Regions from separate parts of the Homo sapiens genome. Here region 2 is linked to region 1. The links come from fine-mapping of genetic effects on gene expression. Tissue or cell type: lung. Region 1 holds a variant in brackets; the other region holds the start of a gene. All regions are shown on one strand. Distances are between the middles of the regions.

Region 1 (8,000 bases):
ATCACACTTATGCAGCCCCCAGTGAGCCCCCAGTGAGCCCCCAGCACACTGGCATCACACTTATGCAGCCCCCAGTGAGCCCCCAGCACACGGTATCACACTTATGCAGCCCCCAGTGAGCCCCCAGTGAGCCCCCAGCACACGGGCATCACACTTATGCAGCCCCCAGTGAGCCCCCAGCACACGGTATCACACTTATGCAGCCCCCAGTGAGCCCCCAGTGAGCCCCCAGCACACGGGCATCACACTTATGCAGCCCCCAGTGAGCCCCCAGCACACGGGCATCACACTTATGCAGCCCCCAGTGAGCCCCCAGTGAGCCCCCAGCACACGGGCATCACACTTATGCAGCCCCCAGTGAGCCCCCAGCACACGGGCATCACACTTATGCAGCCCCCAGTGAGCCCCCAGCACACGGGCATCACACTTATGCAGCCCCCAGTGAGCCCCCAGTGAGCCCCCAGCACACGGGCATCACACTTATGCAGCCCCCAGTGAGCCCCCAGCACACGGGCATCACACTTATGCAGCCCCCAGTGAGCCCCCAGTGAGCCCCCAGCACACGGGCATCACACTTATGCAGCCCCCAGTGAGCCCCCAGCACACGGGCATCACACTTATGCAGCCCCCAGTGAGCCCCCAGCACACGGGCATCACACTTATGCAGCCCCCAGTGAGCCTGAACAGCGGGAGACTGAGCTTGCAGCAGAACCATGATTACGGCTCTGGACGGGGCTCACCCATGGCGGGAGGAGGCGGTCCCAGGGTTCGCCCTTGGAAAGCTAATGGCCCTCACACCTCCCAAGCTTCCCGGGGTGCGGCTGGTGCTCCCAGGCCTTAGCGCGCTGCTCTGAGCTCAAAGCCACCGCCACGGCTAAAACACAGCAGCGCCACGCACAGCACCGTGTTGACACGCTGCGATGAGGACATGCCAGGGCACGTTTCCTGTGCAGCTGGGGTGGGAAAGAGGCCTGGCCCCCAGACCCCGCCCGGCCCACCTCCTCGGCCCGCTGAGCCTCCATGTGCTTGTCCAGGTACGTCCCCTCCAGCACCGAGCCCACGATGGTCAGGCCCTTGCCGGCCTTCAGCTGCGACGTGAAGGACAGCAGGCGGGGGTGCTTCACGGCCTGCTCCGCGTCCAGGTTCAGCATCACCAGCACCTGGGGCCTGCAGCCAGGGTGGGGCGGCTGTTACCACGGCAACGCTTACCAGGGCACGGCCCATCAACAGGCAGGGCAGATGGGACGGGCGGGGCACACGACACAGGTGGGACGGGAGATACATGACAGGCGGGACAGGGGACAAAAGGGGCAGGTGACAGATGGGATGGGGAAACGTGACACACGTGGGGTAAGTTGAACAGGTGACAGGTGAGACAGGCCACAGAAGCCAGGTGGGACAGGCAGGGCCGATGGACAGGTGGGCACTAGCCAGGCAGGACAGGAGAACAGGTAGGTTAGACAGGTGGGACAGGTGACATGCTAGACAGGTGAGACAATGGCCCAGGACACACACCTGAAGCCCCCACCGAGGCCCTGAGGGGACAATGGCCCGGGGCACACCCGAGGCCCCCGCCGAGGCCCCTGAGGGGACAATGGCCCGGGGCACACACCTGAGGCCCCCGCCGAGGCCCTGAGGGGCAGAGGCTTCCCAAAGATGGCCTTTGCTTCAGCAGGAGCCACCCTCTCCCACCCCAAGCCCAGGGCTGTGCTGGCAGAGGGGCCGGCTCCCCACACCCCCACCCTGCAGCAGGGACACCCCCGGCCCCCAGCTGCGCCATCCGCTCTGCACCAGGCAGTGTTCACACCCCAGACCTTGCCTGAGCGGCTGAAGGTGAGAGGCCCCTGAGACTCAAAGGTCCCCACTCAAAGGCCGACCTCAGAAACAGCTCTTCTGTGCGTCTGAGGACCACGGGGCATGGGCGGTGCTCACCTCCAGTTCTTGGTGTGGGGGGGACCGTGCTCCACGCGCAGCAGGGCGTAGCGGGCGGCGTTCAGGGATAGGCCACGGATGCCATCGCCCCACTCCTTCTCGGCCCTGTGGGAAAGGAAGTCGGGGTTTGTCCAGCCGCGTACCTGGAGGCTCCTCTCCCACCTGGGAAAGGGGACTTCTGGGGGCAGGTGAGTTGGGGCAAACAGGACCCCCAGGAAAAGTCCCTGGATGAGGAGGGAGGCCTCCATGCCCACCCTTGCCCTGAAGGGAGCCCGTCCTAGGAGCCACCGGGTCAGAGGGTGCTGTGGCTGTGGAGGGAACGAGGTCTACGTCCAGCATGCGTGAGGTGCCTTCCTCACAGGACGGGGGACAGGAGGCCCATGACAGGGAAGTGGCTGGACCCCGGGCACGAGGCGGGTGCAGGTGGAGGGAGGGTGGGTGCTGGGGCACGGGGAAGGACGCCTGTGGCTGCCGAGTGAGTACAGACACAACCTGGGGACACCTCGCGAGACACGTAGCAGGAATAGTCAGCCGTGGGCTCACCGCCTGCTGAGGACGGCACGAGACAGAGCTCCAGGCTGGAGACCCTGTCCACAAGTGCAGGCACCTCGGCCTGGCTGGAAGTGGGAGGGAAACCCCAGCTTTCACAACACAGCCCACCTGGACGTGCTCCCAGCTGCCCCTGTGAGGGCACACGACGCTCAAGCCCCAGGGAGGCCCCTCCAGGGAGCTGCCCCAGGCATAGCATGAGAGGGGCCCGCCCTCCCGTGCGCCGGGTCTGTAAGGGGGGCTGACAGCGCTTACCCGCGGTACTCGATGTACTTGTAGATGCAGCCAGCGATGAGCATGGCGGACAGCGCGTAGTACCAGGAGCAGATGAACATCAGCGCCAGGCACAGGCTCATACCCAGAAAGGACAGGGTCCTGGGGGCGGGGCAAGTGGCTCGGGGCGGCCCAACGCCATGCAGCCCCCACACCTCAGCCACCACCACACGGACACTGCCCCTCCCTCAGTAAAACTCTCTGTTAACACTAGGAAAACAGTCACTGACGCCTGACGACCATGGCTGTACTCAACCACCTCTGAGGGGTGACGTGGCTCCCTGGGCCCCTGTGGGAGCTGTCACTCCAAAACCCAGTACATAGCTCCAGCTCCCAGCGTGCACACAGCACCTCGGCTGTGCATGCAACAAGGGGCTGAAGCGTCCACCCAGCGCCTGATTCCTGGGGAGGGGAGTTAAGAAGACCCACAGCCCTGATGGGCTACGCCCCAAGCCTGGGAAGGCTGGGCTGACCACGGGAGGTACAAGGCACATGCAGACACCTGGGCATCCTCGTAACCAGAGGCCTTCCTCAGGTGCAGTCTCATCAGCTGCGCAGGGGCTTACTCCGCAAAGGAACAGTCAAGGACGCGCTGGGGTCTTCAGGCCCAGAGCAGCTGGCCTTGTAGAGGCACCCAGTGTCCCAGCCTGTGGGGCTCCTGACGCCTGTGCTGAGCGGCCTCACCAGTGGCAGAGGCACCCAGTGTCCCAGCCTGTGGGGCTCCTCACGCCCGTGCTGAGTGGCCTCACCAGTGGTAGAACTTGAAGCGTGGACGCCAGTTGGGGGTACGTAGCAGGGTCTGCACGGCGCAGGCCAGGTTCACGAACAGGTAGCACATGAGGAAGAACCTGCAGGGACGGCCGGCCACTGATACGGGCCCACTGGGCCCCCCTGAGCCCCCAGTCACTGCCACCTGGGAGACCACCCTTGTCACTGTCCCTCCCACCTGCGCCTTGTCTCCCCATGTCTGTCTCTGCACGTGAGCTGACTCAGACTGATTCCGAATCAGGCCCCCTCAGGTTCCAGCCATCCTGTGACCACCTGGTCCATCAAGAGATGGGCCATCGTCCCTTCCCCAGCAGCCGTCTGTCCAGCCACACTGTCCCTGGCTGACCCCAGCGGGCGGCTGCCTGGAGGCCTGTGTACTTGTCTTCCCCGGCGCAACTCCCTTCCCGGCAGGATCCTGACTGCCCACAGCTGGCCATGCCTGTCTACTGCTTGTCCTGAGCAGGACCTCCCATCCACACTGCCCCACGCTCCAGGCCCATACACCCATCCCCAGGTCCCCGTCCTGTGGGGGCTCACATGGAGAGGATCGGGGCCACGCTGTCCAGAGAGGCGATGAGGATGCCAGTCTCGCAGATGAGGACTGTCAGCAGCAGCGCCCACGTGGGCTCCCCGTTGGCCTTCCCGTGGCCAAACACCTGCAGGGAGAAGGGCAGGAAGATGGGGCAGATGACACCACCCTTTTAGGAGAGAAGCTGCAGGCTGGTCAGGTCTAGCCCAGATGAATCTTAAAGACACAGACCAGCAGAAACGCCTTTCACAGTAGGTCCCCGGGACATCACGCGGCTGGCCTGGGAAGAAGCCCTGACAAAGGGCTGCAGCCCAGGAGGCTTCAGAGCTGTGCCTACGCCCGGCTTGCCTGCAACCTGTGTGGCCCCAGCCTGCCCCCCCGCCTCAGTTTCCCCGACCACACAACACAGGACCAGCGTCTCCAGGGCACTCGCGGTTCCCCAGACCCTGTGGTGACCTTTCTCATCAGGCCACCCTCACCTCCCAGAAGCTGAGGCCCACGGGGCCTGTGTGCCTGTCCCCTTCCTGGACACCATGCCCTAGGCCCGGCTGGGACTGAAGATGCAACCACACAAAGGCCCTGCGGGTCGGCACCCTGCCGAGGGACCAGCGACGGGCAAGGATGGCTCTGCCATCCACGACCTTCCCACAGCTGCCCCTGGGCCCAGGTAGCAGGAGGAGCCACAATCGGCAGCTCTGGGCACAGCACACGGACAGGACCCATGCGGGCGTCCGTGCAATCCTCAGAGCAGCCACACACACTGGCTGCAGGTGGCTGGTGACGCCACCTCCCACGGGCTGAAGAGCTCAGCCACACAGAGAAAGATGTGGCAGGCAGGCAGAGGGCTTCTGACCAGACAACAGACCAGGCACCTCTGGA[C/T]ACGTGGCTGTGGGCCCTCACAGCCGCTCCTGACACACCCGGGGCCGAGCTCGGAGGGACCTGCAGGCAGGAGGGCTAGAATTGCCTCTGCCCACCACCCACCTCCCACCACTCCCATGCTCTGTGCAGTGGCCAGGGGCAGAATGACCACCATGGGGTCCAAGCCGCGGGCATGCGTCCCACACACGGCACTGTGAGGATCCCGCAGGGGAGGAGAGCCCCCGACCCTGACCTTCCAGGGTCCCCCCGACGAGGGTGCGGGACTCACCTGCAGGAAGGGGACGATGCCGTCACGGGCAATGGCCTGCAGTAGGCGCGGTGCCCCCGTGAGGCTCTGCAGGCCGGCACCGCAGGTGGAGAAGAAGGAGCCGATGACGATGACCCAGGGGGAGGGCCAGGCCAGCATGCCGATGACCAGGTTCCCCTGCAGGGCCTCCCCGAACCTGCAGGCAGGCGGGCAGGCGGGCGGGCGGCTTTCAGAAGTGAGCCTGAGTCAGACAAAATGTCTTCTCCCACCCAGAGCGAGGGGCCCAGTGCAGTGGGGGCGACTCCTTGGAAAGCTGAGGCCCGGCCTCCAGTCCCCGTTGGCTGAAACCTCCACCAGGCTCTGCCCAGCATGGCCAGAATGCTCTGGAGGGTCTTCAGCGGGGGAGGGGGTCCTGCTCACCTCAGGGTCGCTCTTGGGAGCAGGGAAGACCCAGCCTGGCATCAGCTTCAGTCAGGGACCACCCAGGACCCCCGGGGCCTTGGGGCTGCCAGACACGCACACCCCATGAGGATGCAGGGTCAGTGATGACCTGCCTGGGACCCCACTACTTCTCCACTTGCCAGCAGGGCTGAGGGATCTCCCAGGGCCAAGCCTCACCCGTCCACACCCCTGTGGCCTCCCCAGGAAGGGCCTGCGCCCCCAGCCGCATCAGGGCTTGGAGTTGGCTCTGAACGGTTCCCCAGGCCCTAGGCTCCAGCGGAAGAGACGACACATCAGACCAAGGGATCCCAACCCTGGGACCAGGACGCCTTCAGCTCTGCACGCGGACATGAAGTCCTAGGGCGATGTAATTTCAAAGCCGAATTCATCCTCAGGAAAACCCTTGAAGACTACAGGCTTTGCACGAAAACTGCAGGTGGAAACGTACTTATCTCGTAAGACCACGCCTTCAATGCAGGCCCCAAACAGCACAATGCAGGAGAGATCCACAGCCCTCGTCAAGGAAAGGCAGGTCCGTGGGTGCAGGGTCCTCAGGTACGGGGGGTGGGGTGGGGTGGGGTGGGGTGGGTGGGGAGATGCACTGGCCAGCGGGCCGCAGGATCCAGGTGGGCGGGGACCGTTCTGCATCCCATCCCATCCCGGGCACGTCCTGTCCCCCGTGTCCTCAGCGCACCCTCCTGGGGCTCTGTCCAGCGCCACAGAACGGGGCCCTGGGGTGGTGGACACACACCTGGCCTGGTGCTTGACCGCCAGGGATTGGCAGGGGACCATGCTGAGGGGACAATGCTCGGCTGGAAAGAGGCAGCCTTGGGATTGAGAAGCCAGAGGCCCCGCGGGCCCAGCCTGCCGGCGGCACACCCCACACACCGCTGCGCATCACTGTCCACACGCGGCAGGGTGACTGCTTCTGTTTTCTCTACGATCGCATCACACAGTGGTGAAGAAGCCAGGGTCCTGACAGCAGCCCTTGCCCCGTCTCCCAGGGAGGATGACGTGGTGAGAGCACAGCCTAACCTGGGAAGTCACATGCTGGTGGCCGAGGGTATGATGCTGAGCCGGGGAGGGCATGGGGGCCTCCCCCCAGGCAGAGGCTGGAACCCTCGCCTGCACCCCTCCAAGGATACAGATGAAAGACGTCGTCACTATGGCCAGGATGGTCCCCGTGGGGATGGACTTCTGTGCATCCTTGAGGTCCCCGGACCGGTTTGAACCCGCCATGATACCTGTGAACATGGAAAATGCTGCAAAGACCCATCTGAGGAGTCAGTGCCATGTGATGGCAGCCCCTGCCCAGAAAGCTGGAAAGGCGGTCTCTGGGGAGACCCCGAGCGTGAGCTGCAGCCGAGGCTGCAGTCCAAGCTCCGCCAGCCCACGCTGCAATACTGCGGCTGAGGGGATGCGGGCCCAGGCACGCGGATGAGCACCCACGTCTACTGCTCCCCTGGATCCGAGGACGAGAACCGACCCCGTCACTGACCCCCACGCCCCCCACACCCAGGGCTTCTCTGGAGCCTGTGTTAATCCCATGGCCAAGGGTCAGCCCAGAGACGGTGCTGAGCAATGGCTCACAGGCCCCCAGGACCTAAGGACTTTGGGAATGAGATCCTAGAACGACTCAGCCCAGCCAGCCAGGCCAGCAGACGCTGCGACCCCTCCCGCTGTGGCACCACCTTGCTCTAGGGAGCCACGGCCGGGGATGTTTCCACACAATCGGCTCCTACAAAGCTCTGGGAAGCCGGGTCGGTGGGGGCCACTTCACGCCTGGCTCGGTCCCATCCAAGGCGCAGCCTGAAGCACCCATTGCTCGGGGTGGCCTGGGAGGCAGCAGAGCCCACAATCCAGTGCCGCGGAGACACCCGGAGCCACGCAGAGGCTCTGCCCCCACGCCCTCCACCCGCGGCTCAGAGACACCCGGAGCCACGCAGAGGCTCTACCCCCACGCCCTCCACCCGCGGCGCGGAGACACCAGGAGCCACGCAGAGGCTCTGCCCCCACGCCCTCCACCCACGGCGCGGAGACACCAGGAGCCACGCAGAGGCTCTGCCCCCACGCCCTCCACCCACGGCGCGGAGCGCACTCAGACGGACGGGGGAGGCTGGAGCGGAGGTACAGGGAGAGGACCCCCGGCAGATCACCCCCTCCATAGCAAGACGGGCCCACCTTCAGTGGAGGCAAGGGAAACACGAGAAGCCAGCGCTGTGGCCAGGCCCTGCAGCTGACCCTGGGCTCCAGGGCTTTCGGATGTGCTGAGATGAAGTCCGGGAGCAGACGTGGGAGGGACCAGAAGGGACCAGAAGGGCAGCTGCAGGCTGCACAAGCAGCCAGCGCCTGTCAGGGGCGTCCCGACAAGAAGGCCGAGTG
Region 2 (8,000 bases), 35 kb after region 1:
GCCCCGACCAGCCGCCCTGCACCCAGGCCTGAGCACCTGGCCCTCCCCTTGGCACCACCTTCCCGACAGCCATCCAGACCACGGGAGAGGCACTGAGAAAGCCACGCACTCTAAGAAGGGGATCTGGTGTCCAACGCTAGACAGAAAACCACCGTGGAATCCGTTTGGCCTCGCCCACTCAGAGAAGCCTGGGGAGCTTTGCAGAAGAGGAAACCATGAACCTGAGTCCACGAGGCAAAGGTCTCCTCATATGATCAGAGGCCCAGGAGCAGGTTCAGACCTGAACACGAGGCCACACCAGGAGAGGGAGCCCCTCACCACTCACTGATGGGCCTAGACCAGGGGGAGGGAACGGATACCCAACACCCAACACCGCGTGACCCTCTGCTGTGGAGGAAGCCCCAGCCCCTCTCTACCTGCCACAGCATACAAACACACACATACACACACACACGTGAGCATGCCCACAGCACACAGCTGTGCAAGAGCACAGTACACATGTATGCACACGTGTGTACATATATGTGCACATATACACAGTGCAAGCACATGGCTCACACGTGGATACACCTGCACGCTCACAAGGCACATAGGTGCCCGCACACATGGACCCGGCCAGCTGACCTAAAGCACCATGCTTTACCGCATGCCTGCTAAGGAGAGCCTCTTGCCGGGAGACAGCCTGGGAGTATGTCAGGCGCAGGAGGAAGCACAGGCCCCGGCCTGGATGCCCAGCAGCCACGGCGTTCCTGTGTATCTTGTTTCCTTTGGTTTTAAAAAGGGAACTCGATACACAAAATGCATGTCTTGTAGCCTCCCTGCCTGCTCACCACATACCCATGACCTTCCGTTCCCGCAACGCAGTGCCCAGCTGCTGCAGGGGCTCCCGGGCACAGCCGCGGGGTCAACAGCCTGCCTGTCCCTCCTGCTCCGACTGCCTCCCATGTCCGTGTCGGGAACGCCCTCCTGAAATCTGGGCACAACGAGAGCTCTCTGTCCCTACTCGGCAGGACAGAACCTGGACGCTCTGTGTGTGGTCCCCCTATCTAATGCGTGATCCCCCAAGTCCCTGCATCCCCAAAGGGGACCCCAGATCAGCACGACCGGCGTGCACCGTCTCGCCATTCCCAAGGGCAGTGCAGAGCATGGCACCCAGCACCCGACAGGCGAGGACGGCCCAGGACAAAGCGGCAGCTCTAGCTGTCCTCAGATTTTGGGAGGGGGCTCCCAACACGGACACGGTAGGTAGTTGGAGCAGGAGGGACGGGCAGGCCACTGACCACGCAACCGGGCCTCTGTCAGCGGCCAGGGGCAGAGGGAGGCAGGACCGCCCCTGGACAACCGACACGAGCTCAGCCACAGTGGAAAATCTCAGAAACGGAACCCAAAGAGGGAAGTGGCGCCCAAGCCAGGAAGAAGCTCCCGGCAAACCTGGGAGAGCCCCAGCTGAGGGTGGGAGACCTGGGGGTACAAGGCAGGACCCACCCTCTCCCAGCCCAGGGAGCCCCAGACGAGTGGAAGTCCCTCCTAGACAGTGGGTGGCCAGGGCCTGTGGGACCTTGACAGAGGCTCTGCACGCTGCACCTTCCAGACAGGCCGGGGCACTGGCCAGCCCTCCTTTCCCACCCCTCCCAGGGTCTCCGAGGCCTCTGGACGCACCCCTACAACCTGGGAAGGAGTGAGTCTACCCTGATGTGGTCACGGAGGAAGGGTGGGCTCCCCCAAGTCAGTTACAAAACCCACTCTACCCTGAAGTCGGACGAGACGCAGCCGGCCCCCAGCAGTGTCCTCCCACCTCCTACTCTCAAAAAACCACCCCACTGAGAAACTGAGGGTTAACACGTCCTTCTCATTTCAAGACGAGGTATTTCACATAAGAATAAAAGCTCCGTCCCAAGAAGTGCTGAGGGCACAGTGCCCATCCCCGGGACAGGACGCCTCCCGCAGAGGCTCCACCAGAAGCAGCAGGGAAGCTGCAGGGGTCGGGGACAGAAGGCCCCTGGAGCCAGGCTGGGCAGACGCGGCCTTGCTGGGCTCTGGGTCGAGCCAGGCAGCCCGGGCAGCAGCATCTACCCCTCTTTCCCCAGAACCCCCCAACCCAGGCTGGGGACACCAAGGCCCCTGCTCCTCAAGTTGGGGTGGCTCAGGACGCCCTCTCCACGCCCACCTGGCAGTGCCTAGGATCAGCCCACCAGGCCCCCCAAACTTGCTTCGCCGTCACCCAGGCGCCAGCCCAGAAGCTCCAGTACCTCCACAGACCGTTCAGGGGAACGGCAATGGAGTCAGGAAGAGCTTGGGTGCTGGTAACTCTGTGGCCGGACAGTTTTGGACCTGGCCTGTGACCTTGTGGTGTGGACCCCACACAGAAGGCCTTTGGGAGGGGCTCCGGCTTCTGCAGGACCCCCGCCCCCAACCACCACCAAAAAGCAAAGCCTGTGCCTCCTTCCCCAGGCTCCGTGCCCATCACGGGACTCCTCGCCGCACCTCTGTGGGCTGAAGATCAGGATGTGATCAAGTGGATTCCGAAGGGCAGCTGCGTGCCCGTTACAGCCTGGCAGTGGCTGGGCACCGGGCCCTTTCTGTGGAAGTAGGAAGCGGGTCCAGCACAAAAGCGCCAGGTGCAAGTTCTCTGCCAGTTCGGAGAAATCTCCCAAGTTCAGCTCACACCACAGGGCCACCCTCAAAAGTGTCCAGAAGCCCACACCTGGCCCATGCCCTCCCGTTCTCAATTTCATGAAGGCCAGGGAGCCTCCTGACACGCCCGTAGCAGGACCTGAGTGCGCGGGCAGCGACATGGGCAGCGCTCAGCCAGGGCCACTTCCTGCTGGGCAGACACAGGCCCAGGGCACTGCTCAACAGCCTTGAGAGTAGAAGAGACAAGAAAACGAACAAGCACAAAATTCTCTCTGGCTTAAAAGCAAATGACACTTACAGTCTAAAGACAAAAGTGAACCTGATCAGCCTTGAGAAGGGGCCGGCCAGACAAGAAGAGGCTCCTTCTGAGTGCGTTCCGGGGGCGTTGCTACAAAGCTCACACAGAAAGACCACGCCAGGGCCCACACTCCTTGGTGCTTCCTGCCTCCACGGTGGTGACTGGAGAGAAGGGGCTTGGACTCACGGACCCTGCTTAGTTAGCACTTCACCTGGTGTTGAGCCTGGCGCCCCGCCTGACCACTTCCAAGATCTGGGCTGGCCTCTGTGCAGAGGAAGCTGAGACCACTCTTCGCCCGCCACGGGGACCCTGATGACGCACCCCAGGCCACCAGGCCACTGCCTTCACGGTGGGTCCCCACCCGTGTCTCCGGGTTCCTAAACTGCCTGGAGGGGATGTCTGGCCTTTCCTGCCCGGGATGGTGGGTTAGGAAGGATCTGGGGTCTGGCACCGGACTTGTCCCTGGACAGACCTCACCTTCCTTCCACTGCCAGGGAGCAGGGAGGCTGCCACCCACTGCATGAGACCCGGGCACATGCGGGCACTGCCAGCACGCGGGGTGGGGGCTGGACTGAGTCCGGACACCTTCTCAGAGACTCCGGATGGAAGGGCCTAAGAGCCTCCGGTTTCTAGAGGGGGCTGAGATCCGGGGAGTAACTGGGATTTGGAGCCAGGATGGAGGGAACAGGGCTGGGGGATTCTCTCCCCAGCCCCGTCCCCACCCCCTAGAGAAAGTGAAAGTGCTAGAAACCTCCAGATTCCCGGAACGGGGGACGGGAACACGGAGGACGCGGCCTGAGCAAGGCCCCGGTGGCTGCCCCCTCCCCAGCCAGGGCGCAGTCCTTCCTGTTCCGCCTCTGGGGGGTGGGCGGCTCCTCCAGGGTCAGGCGGGGGCAGGACGGGCCGGCCCGGGCTAGTGTTACCGGACGGCCGCGGCGCAGGGGAAGGGAGAGCGCGGGGGACGCAGGACGCCCCGGCTCCCGAACCGCCCGGGTCTCCACCGCCACCCCTGTCCCACTAGGGACCACCCAGGGGCCCGGGCTCCCTCCGGAGGCGCGCTCCAGCCCCTCCCCGTTTCCATGGCTACCAGCAGCGGCGTCCACACCTCTGCCCCCGGTCCCACCCGAGCTGACCGTACCGGGAGCCCTGGCAGGGCCCCTCGCCCCCTAGCGCTGCCACTAACGTGGGGTGGGGGCCCTCGTGGGGGACCGAGAACAGGCGGTGGGGGCGCGGGAAGGGGCGCCTCCTGTACCCCCGGCCCCGCCGCCCGCCTCCGCTCCCGGATGCCGGGCCCAGACCCGCGCTCGGGGCGCTCGGCCTTTGTCCGGCCAGGTGCGGCCGCGCTCACCCGGGCTGGGGCGCTCGGGCTCGGGGCCCTCGGGGGTGCCCGGAGCCTCCGTCCGCTCGGCAGTCTCGTCCCCGCCGCCGTCGGCGTGAGCCTCCACGGGCACCACGGTGAAGTTGGTGGGCATGGCCGCCTGCAGCCGACAGTCCCCGTCCCGGCCCGGCCCGCGCTGCGCCGCTCCCGCCGACGCCACGGGACTTGGAGGCAGGGGCGGGGTCCGACCGAGCCGCCCCGCCCCGCCCGGGCCACGTGACTTCACCTGCTTGCCCCGCGGCCCCACGAAAAGTTGGCCCGCGGCGACTTCCTGCAGGGACCCCAACCCAGGCTGCGTCTGTCTGACCGCCGCGACCCGGGACGCGGGGCTTTCGCTGCCTGCGCTCCCGACCATCGCAGAGCCCGCGAATCCCCGCTCAGTCTCCTGCACCCCCTCCTGCTCCAGCCCCCTGCCCCTCCTGCTGGAACTCCCCGCCCTCCCCGCCCTCCCCGGCCCCCTCCCCGCCTCCCCTCTTGTCCCCTTCCCCGACCCCCCACTCCTGCTCCAGCCCCCTGCCCCTCCTGCACGCCCTTCTGCTGGAACCCCTCACCCCTCCTGCACCCCCCCACCCTTCCTGCACCCCCTCCTGCTGGGCCCCCCTGCCCCTATGAACCCCCTCCTGCTGGAACCCCTGCCCTTTCTGCACCCCCTCCTGCTGGGCCCCTCCTCCTTCTGCGCCCCCTCCCGCACCCCCTCCTGTTTGCCCCCCATTTCCTGCTCCAGCCCCCTACCCCTCCTTCTTCCCCCTCCTGTTCCCCCCTGCCATCCTCCAGCACCCACCTCCCACACAGTCCGCCCACCCACTCCAGGCTGTCAACACCCGCTCAGACCCTGGGCTCCTAGCCTGGCTCCTGGCTAGCCCAACCTGGCTGCAAAGGCAACTCCAGTGGAAGGAGCCTTGGATAGCCTGGGGGTGGGGTACTCCGGAGCTTGGTCCAGCTCCAGTTTAGGGACCTAACCCAGTAGAGGGAGTCCCCCCCCCCACCCATGACAAATACCACCCACGAAGACCCCAGTCTCCTCCACACCTGCCCCAGGAGTGCCCCGCGGCCCCTGCCCTAGAACCCTCCCTTCCCTCCTTGGGAAATGTTCCAGAAGCTCACAGGGTGATGCAGGGAAGGTGGAGTTCCAGAACCCACCAGGCAGACACCAGGATACCACCGGCCAGCACCTGGCACATTTCTCAACAAATGACTCATGAAAAACGGAACAATCAGATGTCCGTCAATGGGGAATTGGGCTAAAATGCTATGGCACACAGGTGCAATGAGTCAGCCTTTATTCCTAATCACCCACAACTGCTGTACGACAACAAAGCAGAAACACAGGTGGTGTGGGCAAACACGGCCACAGCCTCTTGTCACGTGGAAAATGGGTATGGCCTGGCCATGTTTTAGCCGCTTGCCTGTCTAATCCTAAAAGGCAGCTGGAGGGGAGTGATGGCCTCCGGGCTGTGGGATCACCGGGCTCTGTGGGTTCAAGGAACGCAAGCCCAACCTCTCCAGCCATTTCCAGTAAAGCCAGTCATGCCCTGGGGTGGCCTAGGGTTCTACCCCTTTGCCCCATGGACTCTTCTGGGCAGAAGCTGTAGGCCTGGGACCCTCCTGGAACGTCGCCCATCCAGCACCAGCCCTTGCAGAGGTGGGGGTTCCTCTGGCCTGGGTGTCTGGAGCTGTGCCTGCTCCACACTCTCACCCCACCTCCCACCAAAGGGAGCTCAGGGCTGTGGATGGTGCTAGGTCAGCTGCCTCCCTGGGTCAGTGGGTTGGAAGGTAGGAAACCATCACCTCCCCAGAAGATAAAATAGTTCCCAGGCATCCTTATGAGGAGGGCTGGCTTTGCTAAAAAGATCCAGGGGGTGGGAACAGAAGTGCCCAATGGGGTCAATTATAGGGTTCACACTTAGGGTGCTGGGTAAACCCTCTCCTCAGTCACCCCAGCAGGGGCTTCTGTACATTCAACCCTGGTTGCCACCCAGCGCTATTCCCGAGGGTTGGACAGAGCTCAGGGTGGGCACGAGGCCTTCCCAAGTGATGCCAGCAGGAGCAACAGATGTGCAGGGCTCCCGTCGCACATCCAAGCTCTGCTTCACACCCCAGGACCCCAGGGCCGGCTGCCCGCCATGTGCTGGCTGTGGACCTTCAGAGGAGCTGGTTTGGAGGGTCTGTGGCCAGGGCCAGCTCCCGGACTCAGGACTCATCAGCTTCATTTTACAGAGGAGGAAACTGAGGCCCAGGAGTTTAGGGTCCTGTGGCAGCTCCGAGGGTGGTCTTCTCTGTGATTACAAAATCTTGACTAGGACCAGGGGCCATGGCTGAAGCACCTGGGTGGGTGCCCAGCCCTGCCAGGCAGAAGGCAGGTGGCTTCTCTTGTTTAAATCTTAGATCTTACTTGTGGGAGACCTCGGGTGGGGGGTGAGGTCTGCTGCCTTTTGCATTCTAATCAGGTGAGTCACGACAGGGATCAGCACCCTGTAAGCACCTGCGGGTCAAGACAGAGACCCTTGCCGGAGCCCAGAAGCCGCTGCAGGCCCCTCCCATCCCATCAGTAGCCCATCCCTAGGGGTCTGGTGGCCCCTCCCTTCGCTCTGTGGGTTTCCGTGTCCACGTATATCCTCCCACACGGCAGCCTGGGGTTAAATGTGCGTTGTGTGACTTTCAGTGCTCTCTTCCTACCCACCTCCATCCCTCTGTCCTTTTCTGTACCCGGCACCTGTTGTAGGAAGTGGCCCTCGGACACGTGGAGGTACCCGAGGCCTGGGTTGGAGCTGCATCTTTCGGTGCAGGCCTCTGCGTCTCCTGGAAGTGGGCACCTGGAGCCAGGGGACTGCTGGGATCCGGGTCCAGTCCCCTGGCAAGGCCGGGGGCTCGCAGAGGGAGCCACGCACTGTCTGGTGGTAGCTCCTCCGTCCGCAGTCGTTGGTGCTTGATGTCTGAATCGACAGATTCATGGAGCAAAATGGTGATTTTCCAGTGCGTGGTGGCTTCGTCATGAATTCACTGGAGGGAGAGGCTCATCTTGTCCGTCTGGCCATCTGGATAATGGTGCCCACAGGAAAGGCAGGGCAAGGGTGCCTCTCCCTCATTTGTCAGTTTCCACAACGGTGAATTGGTTCCCGACAATCTCCCAAGTATATTTGTACATCGCTGATGAAACACATTGGTGGGTCTCAGTCGATCACCATTAGTGCCCTTTCCAAGCATCGGTGTCCAGCTTTGCCCAGGGGGCCTCTTCAAATGCAATCTCGCATCCTTATGATGTGAGCCTGGTCATCTGCGATGGCCTCTTGGCCGTGTGCAGGGCACAGCCAGGGGAACCCTGGGATTTAGTGCGAAAGTGTAGCCGATGGTGGTTACATTCTGTGTGTAGATTCTCGAAACAGTCCCTGCTGCCTGCCACCCTGGGGTGGAGTTTCTAATGGATTAGGACGGACACCCAATGCCAGCTTCCAAGCCAGGAGGCCGCTCGTGCCCACGGCTTGGAATCAGGGCTGTGGCCTGGGAGGGCTCTCACCAGACGCAGGCTGCCTCCAGGTATCTGTGTGCCTCTGCCCACGGAGCTTCTCCCCAGGTCCGCGGGTCCCCCCAGTCCACTTCTGCTTTCCTGTTAGGGTGGGGGGCTCATCTCCTGGTGCGCCATCTGCATCCTTCTGGGCTGGGAACCTGCTGTCGGGTATCAGGCAGGGCGCA

What was found. PIP is the estimated chance that this variant, and not a neighbour inherited with it, causes the effect.
Region 2: it holds the start of SLC12A7, and the variant in region 1 is fine-mapped to the expression of SLC12A7 in lung (TOPMed, PIP above 0.99).

The regions. Positions count from the first base shown.
Region 1 is chr5:1,072,635-1,080,634 of GRCh38, forward strand. It overlaps SLC12A7 (solute carrier family 12 member 7), which reads right to left. Exons shown (of 24, transcript NM_006598.3): 10 at 6,764-6,862; 11 at 6,067-6,124; 12 at 5,199-5,373; 13 at 4,060-4,178; 14 at 3,504-3,602; 15 at 2,737-2,856; 16 at 1,933-2,037; 17 at 999-1,167. Among named protein-coding and RNA genes, the nearest start is that of MIR4635, 14 kb to the left of the region's middle. RefSeq lists enhancers at 333-887, 888-1,442. The variant C/T (reference allele first, on the strand shown) is at 4,931.
Region 2 is chr5:1,107,588-1,115,587 of GRCh38, forward strand. It overlaps SLC12A7 (solute carrier family 12 member 7), which reads right to left and starts at 4,476. Exons shown (of 24, transcript NM_006598.3): 1 at 4,281-4,476. The coding sequence starts at 4,404.